2 separate regions of the Homo sapiens genome follow, and region 1 is linked to region 2. Evidence: fine-mapped expression QTL. A gene starts in region 2. The other region holds a variant in brackets. All regions are shown on one strand. Distances are from middle to middle. Region 1 overlaps SLC2A1 (solute carrier family 2 member 1). Region 2 holds the start of SLC2A1 (solute carrier family 2 member 1).

Region 1 (4,243 bases), 28 kb before region 2:
CTAAATAAACGAGTGCCTGTGTGTGAGTGCCAGGCACAGGGTTAGCACAGCGGTCACAGTCACAGGCCTGGGACTGAGGTTGATTCCTGGCTTCATCCTTTATCTGACAAGTTACTAACCTCACTGGGACTTAAGCTTCCTCCCCCATAAAATGGGAAGAACTGAACTACACCTCCAGTCGTGTGAACTGAATGAGGCAAGGCATGTTTCTGCGCCTCTATGGGGAGGACAGCACTACTTCCCGGGGTTGCTGTGAAGATGAATTGAGGCTACAGATGAAGATTGGAAAGGGTTAATATTAGGCAAAGCAATTCCTTAAGGAGGTGAGAGTTTGGGGTCTGGGACCAGAGGTGCTGCGCTGAGAATCCATCAAGCAGGGAGGAGCAAGTTCAAGAGAGGATGTGTGTGGTTTGGAAGGAGACAACTTCAGGAGCCAGAAAGTCAGACCCACAGCCAGGGAGAATGCAGCCACCAAAAGGCCTGCCAGCCTGGGGCTGAGACAGGCATTTTGGGATATGAAGCCCAGGCAAACTCTCCCGCATCCCTCACTCTCCAGAACCTAGCAACTCACCAGCAGTGCTAGCGCGATGGTCATGAGTATGGCACAACCCGCCATGCCAGCGAGGCCTATGAGGTGCAGGGTCCGCCGGCCTGCTCGCTCCACCACAAACAGCTGTGGGCAGAGACAGTGTCAGTGCCACCCCTGCCTAGTGCCCTTCTGAACCCACCCACCCAGAGGCCTTGCCTCAAGAGCTGAGAAAGTCACAGGGCACTGCAAAGACCAGTGGGGAAGATGGCACTGCCTCCTCCCTGGGGTTTGGCTGGGGGGGCCAGTAAGCAAAGACTCACCGACACGACAGTGAAGGCCGTGTTGACGATACCGGAGCCAATGGTGGCATACACAGGCTGCTGCACCCCCGCCTTCTCGAAGATGCTCGTGGAGTAATAGAAGACCTGCCAGACAAGAGAAACTGTTGGGGCCTACCTGGACATTGTGGCCCTTCCCTGCCTCTGTAGCAGTGGATGTGGGACCCAGGATGAGTAAAGAATGAAGGGGACAAATACTCAGGCAGAAGGGACACTGCACTGCAGTGACCTTACGGGCTTGGGGTCTAAAGGGAAACTTCTTCGGCAGAGGCGTATCTGTTGTTTCAAGTTTGGGACTTGTTCACCATGCACACTTGACCAGAGGGCTTGGCTGGGGCACAGGAAGGGTGGGTGGGGGCACTCACAGCGTTGATGCCAGACAGCTGCTGGGACAGCTGCAGCACCACAGCGATGAGGATGGGCTGGCGGTAGGCGGGGGAGCGGAACAGCTCCAGGATGGTGACCTTCTTCTCCCGCATCATCTGCCGACTCTCTTCCTTCATCTCCTGCAGGTCATGGGTCACGTCAGCTGTCCCGCGCAGCTTCTTTAGCACTGGGGGGACCGGAGGGAAGGTGAGGGTGGCTCAGAGTGGGAAGAAGGCCAGGGCTCAGGGAGTGGGGAGGAGGGCAGGGCCATGCCCGTACCACTCTTGGCCCGGTTCTCCTCGTTGCGGTTGATGAGCAGGAAGCGGGGACTCTCGGGGCAGAAGGGCAGCACGATGCACTGCAGCAGGGCCGGGATGAAGATGATGCTCAGCAGCAGGGGCCACAGGTCCTTGTTGCCCATGATGGAGTCCAGGCCGAACACCTGGGGGAAGCAGGGGCCGTGAGCGCCTCTGCCCTGACCCCCTTTCCCACCCCGTCCTGCCAGAGTGGCCTTCCCTACTTTGTGTCAGCTGCTGCTTCAGGGAAGGGCCCCAGTTCTAGAGGCTCTGCCACTAGCATGAGCCCTGTTTCTCAGTTTCCTCATCGGTCACATGGGAAAAGTAGGACCTACCCCACAGTGTTGCTGGGAGGACAAATGACAAGGCCACAGATGTGTCCAGCACAGAGAATGGGGGCTGCTACTCTGCCACAAGAGGGTTTTGGGGACAGGGAAGGGGAAGCCTCCTGGAGAGAGGGTACTGTGCATAACAGCCTGCGGCATGTTGGGGGAAGGCGGGCCCTGTGGTTGGAAGCCTAGAGTGAGAAGAAAGGGACTGAGAAGAGTCAAGTCATCTTGCTGTCAACTGGGAGGCCATGGTGCTGTGTTCTCTGGACCTGTGTACCATAGTTGTCCTCTGCAAGGCTGTGGGGGCTGGGCGGAAGAGAAACTCTGCCCTGCTGGGCACAGATCCGAGAGCCACTGAAGCTGTGGGCAGGGGCCGTGCCAGGCAGGTAGATCCTGCCCCAGCTTACCTGGGCGATGAGGATGCCGACGACGATGCCCAGCTGGTGCAGGGTGCCCAGGGCCCCACGAAGGGCTGTGGGTGACACTTCACCCACATACATGGGCACGAAGCCTGTGGTCAGGCC[G/A]CAGTACACACCGATGATGAAGCGGCCCAGGATCAGCATCTCAAAGGACTTGCCCAGTTTCGAGAAGCCCATGAGCACGGCGGACACGAAGGCCAGCAGGTTCATCATCAGCATTGAATTCCGCCTGGGGACGGGGTCACAGGTCAGGCCAGTGCCCACATTCCTTGGGCTCCGAGGGGCTGGGTCAGAGGTAATACCCTGGAACAGGCAGATAAGTCTCCCCTACCTCCCACCCCATCTGGGACTCCCTGGGCAGGAGGGCATGGGCCCTCCAAGGGCAGTGCCAGGACCTCTCCTACTTACCGGCCAAAGCGGTTAACGAAAAGGCCCACAGAGAAGGAGCCAATCATGCCCCCAACAGAAAAGATGGCCACTGAGAGGGACCAGAGCGTGGTGAGCGTGGTGGGCAGGATGCTCTCCCCATAGCGGTGGACCCATGTCTGGTTGTAGAACTCCTCGATCACCTGCAGGGGGAGATGCAGCCTGGGTGAGCAAGCCAGGGGCCAGGACCCAGTCTTCCTTTTCCTTTCCCCTTGCACCCCTCCCTAAGAGAGGGCCAGGGCCTGGCTCTGCCACAGATTCACTGCATGTTCTTGAGCCAAGTCCCTCTATTTTTGTGGGCCTCACTTTCCCCAGGCGAGAAACAAGGGGTTGGAGTTCATCTGAGAGCCCCGCCAACTCTCCCACTTCCCCTAACGTGTGGTTTCCAGTGCCCTGTGGTTTCACAGGCTCAGTGTGACTTGCTGGGATGATGGCAAGTGATCAGTGGTGGAAGTTCAGGCATAGAACAGAGAGGTACAAGACCAGGTGTGGTGGCTCACGCCTGTAATCCCAGCACTTTGGGAGATCAAGGCAAGCAGATCACTGGAGATCAGGAGTTCGAGACCAGCCAGACCAACATGGTGAAACCCTATCTCTACTAAAAATAAAAAAAAAATTAGCTGGACGTGGTGGCGCAAGCATGTAATCCCAGCTACACGGGAGGCTAAGGCAGAATTGCTTAAACCCAGGACACGGAGTTTGCAGTGAGCCAAGACTGTGCCACTGCACTTCAGCCTGAGTGACAGAGTGAGACTCTATGTCTCAAAAAAAAAAAAAAAAAAAGAGAAATACAGAAGGAAAAGGGTCTTCCCACTTGCCCCTTTTCTCCTCACCATGTCTCAAAGCCCCAGGGGCCCATCTCCTGCCATCAGGCCCTCCCCCCAACCCCTTGCTGGGGAGGAAGCAGGGCTTGACAGACAGGTTCCGCCATCCAGGAAGTACAGACTCCCTGACCGCACTGAGGGCCTGGTGTGACAAACTCACACATGTCACCCTTCAGAAGTGCTTGAAAGACTCACGCTGTGGCTTTCTGTTCCCCAGGCCTAGCTCCCTTGTGTCTGGCCTGCGAGCACCCCCTTGAAGGACCCACGGCCTCCTCCCCTCTCCCAAGGGCCCAGCTAGGAGGTATGGGGAAAGGTTCCACACAAGGAAGCAGTTCCAGGAACTGGAAACGCCCGTCCTAGGGCAGCCCTGCCCACCAGCCCTGCCCCCACCCTGGCCAGCTCCCACGGATGTGGTAGGCAGGCAGCACCCGTTCTGCCTGAGCACACTCACCACACTCTCAGTGCCATGGGACTGGCCAGACCCACCCAGCCACACGTATAGCAGAGTGCAGGCCCTAGTTACCCAGAAACGGCTTCTTATGCACGTATACCATCACACACACATACCCGTGCTCATAGAATCTAAATATTCCTGCTTTAGCCAGTCACAAACTCACATGCCCCTCATCCCCTACCACTTACAGCTCAAACTCAATTCCATGTGAACCCAACCCATCCCAACACCCCTCCGTGTGTGTGCATGCCACAGGTTCATG
Region 2 (4,500 bases):
AGGTAGACAGTGGAAAACTTGGAGAACACTCCATGAAGAGCACCCACCTGCTACACTATTTAGAACCAGCTGGCACAAGGGGCCACCTTTGAAGATAGGCAAACTCTCTCCCTTCTGCCCAAAATTCAAGAAATGTTGTGGTGAAGAGAGACAGTGGAGACAGAAATGAAATTAAATCTGATGGGCCTGGGTTCAAATCCAGTTCAACCACTTACTAGCTGTGTGACTTTGGCAAACTTATTTCCCTTCTCTGAGCTCCAGGCTAGTGAGTAACCAGCAGGGCTATAAGGTCCGTGACGCTTAAAGTAGTTTGGCTAAGAACCTGCTGATTTTCTCCTCCACTTTTCTGTCTCCACGTAGTATTCCCTTATCCACTCAACAAATAAATACCCATGTCTGGCATAGTATGCTGAATAGATAGTTCCTTCCCTAGAGGAAGTGACAAAAGTGATCTCTTTCAGATGGAAAAACTGAGGCCCAGAAGTTAAGTGGCCTGCAAGAGCCCTGAGATATTTGGACTTCCTTGCCACTAGCTAGAAGAGCTTCTCACTGAACTTTTGTTTAGTTATATCCCACCCTTACGGCTCACCTAAGATCCTGGGAGCCTTCCCCGGGAACTTCCCCGGGGTCTCACCTCAAGCGAGGGCCCAGGAAGGGTGAACCAAGTCGTCTGGATTTATGGATTCAACAGGTGTGGGGCGGAAGGCCTTTTCCTGCCGAGGGTGCGGCCCAGCGCCACCCCGCTCAGTCTCAGCGGGACACCTCCACAGCCAGTAGGAAGGGCAGTTCAAAATTCAGTGCTACCCCCGCGTCCCAGCTAAGAAAACAAGGGCCATCCAGGTGCCCTCCCAGCTGACGAGATGGAAAAATCAAAGTATAATAGATAAAGAGGGACCGTTTCAAAAGAAAAAGGGGACTTGAAAATATTGTAGACTAGGGGGAGGAAAGGAGGTGGAAAGAAACAATGCCCTACACACAGGAGGGGCTCCACAAACAATTTGTTGAAAAGAAATCGCTCTGCGGACGCTACAAAGATGCCCTGCAGGACAAGCCCACTTACACAGAAAAAAAGAAATCCTATCTAGGGAGTTGTTGGTCCCCAGAGTCCCCATCCCTCATTCCCCAACCCCGTGGCGTGCGCGCTTCCCGCTAGACTTCAGCCTGGGGCTCTTTCCTGGCCCCCAGATCCCCCGCCCCTCCGGTTGCGCTCCCCGCCTGGCCCCGAGGGTAAACCTGCCTCCGCGGAACACATCTCCGCGAGACTGGGCCAAAGCTTTGGGGCCTGCACTCCTCGCAAAGGAGAGCCTCCGAGACCGGAGGTTCATCTCAACCCCCGCGTTCGAGCCCGGGCCTGGAGAAAAGTGCCCTCCCCTCGGCCTCGGCCTCGTCACCGCGGGGGACTGGCGGGAGGAGTAGGGGAGGCCGGTGGGACACCTCGCACCAGGCCGCCCACCTACAGGGGCGTCCGGGCTAGGGGAGCAGACGGAGAGCGGGGGCGGCTCCTGACTCCTCCGCGCGCCGGGGCCGGGGCCGGGCCGGGGGCTCGGCCCGCTCAGCCAATGGGCGCCGCGCTCGGGCCCCCTCCCCCGCACCGGGAGGGGCCGAGGCTGGGCTGCTGCTGCCGAGGTCGTGTGCGACGTGCCGCTCCCGGGCCCTGTGTCCCCAGCCCCAGCAGGGCCGCGTGGACGGCGCGGCGCCCCCGGAAGGAGGCCATGTGCTCAGTGCCGGCGCCAACTACGCACGCGGCGCCCTCCGGCCCGCTAGATCCGAAGCCCATCCCCACTGCGGCCAGCGGCCCGGCGGGGCGCTGCGCTCGGGACCCGCACCGAGCCAGGCTCGGAGAGGCGCGCGGCCCGCCCCGGGCGCACAGCGCAGCGGGGCGGCGGGGGAGGCCCTGGCCGGCGTAAGGCGGGCAGGAGTCTGCGCCTTTGTTCCTGGCGGGAGGGCCCGCGGGCGCGCGACTCACCTTGCTGCTGGGCTCCATGGCAGCGCTGCGCTGGTGGCTCTGGCTGCGCCGGGTACGCGGGTGGCGACGGGCGTGCGAGCGGCGCTCTCCCGCTCAGGCTCGTGCTCCGGTCCGGGGACTCCCACTGCGACTCTGACTCCGACCCCCGTCGTTTGGTCTCCTGCTCCCTGGCGTGCTCACTCGGGGACCCGCGACTAGCGACCGGCACGCTCGCTGTTGCTACCTCTTGCCTCTTGCCAGAGAGCGCGCGGACCGTAGCGTTTATAGGACCCCGGCCATTGGCTGGCGACGCCGGTGTGTCAGGGGTGTGTGGGCAGGACCTCGGGGCGGGGCCTGGGGCCCAGCCTGTCCTGGGCGGCGCTCTGCGGGGAGGGGGTGAGGGGAGTGGCCGGGGCCGGGGCCCCCCCTAACCACTGCCTCGCTCAGGCTGCCGATCGGCTCGTTCTCTCTGCGTTGGGACCGCGGAGGGCATTCGCTGTGTGACTCAGGGCAAGTGTGCGCACCTCTCTGAGCCTCCGCGGCCTTCTCTAGCAAAATGGTGGAGCCGGTACCCGGCTGTAAGGCAAGCTGGGATGCGCGGAGTAGCGGGTGGAAAGCTGGACTGGAGTTCTCACTCGGCCGCTGGGTGACTTCGGTGCACTAGGGATAGTAACAGTACCACCTCGTAGGGTTGTAGAAAGACCAAGTGAGTTAATATTTGTAAAGTGTTTAGAACAGCGTCTACTGCATGGAAAGTAGTATTTATTTGTTAGAGAGACTCCAGGAGGTCTTGCCCAGGGATTGACTTCTCCCTTCCCTGTCTCCACCCCCCACATTCCCGTTTGTGAGCCAAGCCTTGCTTTTGCACCGGCCGGGCTCTCTTGCCTGGAAATGCATACCCATCTCAAACCTGGGCTTTAAAATCACCTCCTCTGGGACGCCTTCCTCTACTTCTCACAGTTCAGGTGAGTCTATGGTGACCTGTAAGTGTGGAAAATATGAAAGGCAGGCTAACTGACTGACATGATAGGACATTAAGGACATGATAGACCTCGGGTTTGAACCAGCTCAACTGTATACTGGCCCGGCCGCGATCCTGGGCGAGTTCCTGGCCAGTGAGGCTGTTTTCGTTTTTTTCTTTAATTTTTTTTTTTCTCAGACAGAGTCTCGCTCTGTCGCCCAGGCTGGAGTGCAGCGGCACGATCTCGGCTCACTGTAACCTCCGCCTCCCGGATTCAAGCAGTTCTCTGCCTCAGCCTCCCGAGTAGCTGGGATTACAGGCGCCCGCTATCACCCCTGGCTAATTATTTTTATTTTTAGTAGAGACGGGGTTTCACCATTTTGGCCAGGCTGGTCTTGAACTCTTGACCTCGTGATCCACCCACCTCGCCTCCCAAAGTACTGGGATTACAGGCGTGAGCCACTGAGCCCGGCCGAGGCTGTCTTCTTATGAGTAAATGGAATTCCCACACCAATCTCATTGCTATCAGGAGAGGTGCAATTTCCAGATAAGCTCATGAAGTGTTTAGCATGGAAGTTCTCATTTACTGGTTGGTGGTATTGTTGGTTTATTTATTTAGTCTGTTAGTAAATAAATAAATGCTGGTCTCAAACTCCTGGGCTCAAGTGATCCTCCCACCTTAGCCTCCGTAGTAGCTGGGAGTGCAGGCATGTGCCACTGCACTGGTAGTGGTATTGCTATCATCTGACTTCACCTTATTTCCTCTAGACCAGTGCCTTACTTGAGACACAGTGAAGGGAAGGACCCCCAGTCCAAAGGTCTGATCAAAGTCTTGAGGGTCCCTTTCCCGATGGAGGGAGTCATGGTGGGCTTACTGTCTGTCGGAAACCGGGAGGCTGAGCCGACCAGATGACCCCTGGAGTTCTCTGGCAATGTGTCCAGTTCTGGCTGAGGGGCACCTTGGTTGAGTATGGAGCCCTGAAACAGAAGGCAGGTGCATTCTGGGCACCCCCCTGCCCAAGGCTTCAATTCCTGTGGTCTCTCTATGCTCAGCCTGGAAAGCTTGGGCCACCTCTCTCCTCACCCCTGGACAGACCAAGTCCTGCTGACTCCGCTGTCTACACCACCTCATCCTCCTTCCCTCCCCTGCTGTCTGCAGGGCCTCCATCTCCTCTGGTCTTTTGTCCTCCAGTCCTGCACCCTGCCACTCTCCTGCTCATCTGTCTGAAATTGTCATGGAGGGAGTAAGGGCCAAGCCTGGCCATCACGGTCCTTCTTCATGGCACCAGTTTACACGCTCAGCCTCGCCCCTCACACCAGCAACTCACATCCACACATTTGCTCAGCTTGTCTCCTCTGCCTGGGAAGCCCTCCCCGACCTCACCATGCCAAAAAGCACCATGGGTCCTTCCTCCTCCGGGAAGTGTCCCTGGTTCTCCCAAGTGGAAATCTTTCTCTCCTTTACCATTTGGTGTTTTGTAGGTTGCCACTTGTCCTCTGTCTGCCTTCCCTCAGCCTGTGAGCACCTTGAGGACAGGTTCTGCAGCTGAGGCACGTGGGTGAATGACTGAAGGAGGGAAGGAATGCACGAATG

Evidence for each region. PIP is the estimated chance that this variant, and not a neighbour inherited with it, causes the effect.
Region 1: its variant is the best candidate, but not a certain one, in a credible set for the expression of SLC2A1 in whole blood (INTERVAL, PIP 0.66).

The regions. Positions count from the first base shown.
Region 1 is chr1:42,928,361-42,932,603 of GRCh38, forward strand. SLC2A1 (solute carrier family 2 member 1) reads right to left here. Exons shown (of 10, transcript NM_006516.4): 3 at 2,686-2,846; 4 at 2,266-2,506; 5 at 1,513-1,675; 6 at 1,233-1,420; 7 at 850-954; 8 at 572-673. Among named protein-coding and RNA genes, the nearest start is that of SLC2A1, 28 kb to the right of the region's middle. RefSeq lists enhancers at 225-867, 868-1,508, 3,779-3,948. The variant G/A (reference allele first, on the strand shown) is at 2,383.
Region 2 is chr1:42,956,668-42,961,167 of GRCh38, forward strand. It overlaps SLC2A1 (solute carrier family 2 member 1), which reads right to left and starts at 2,201. Exons shown (of 10, transcript NM_006516.4): 1 at 1,967-2,201. The coding sequence starts at 1,984. It overlaps SLC2A1-DT (SLC2A1 divergent transcript), which reads left to right and starts at 2,382. Exons shown (of 4, transcript NR_033967.1): 1 at 2,382-2,910. RefSeq lists silencers at 1,322-1,961, 2,092-2,501, 2,374-2,557.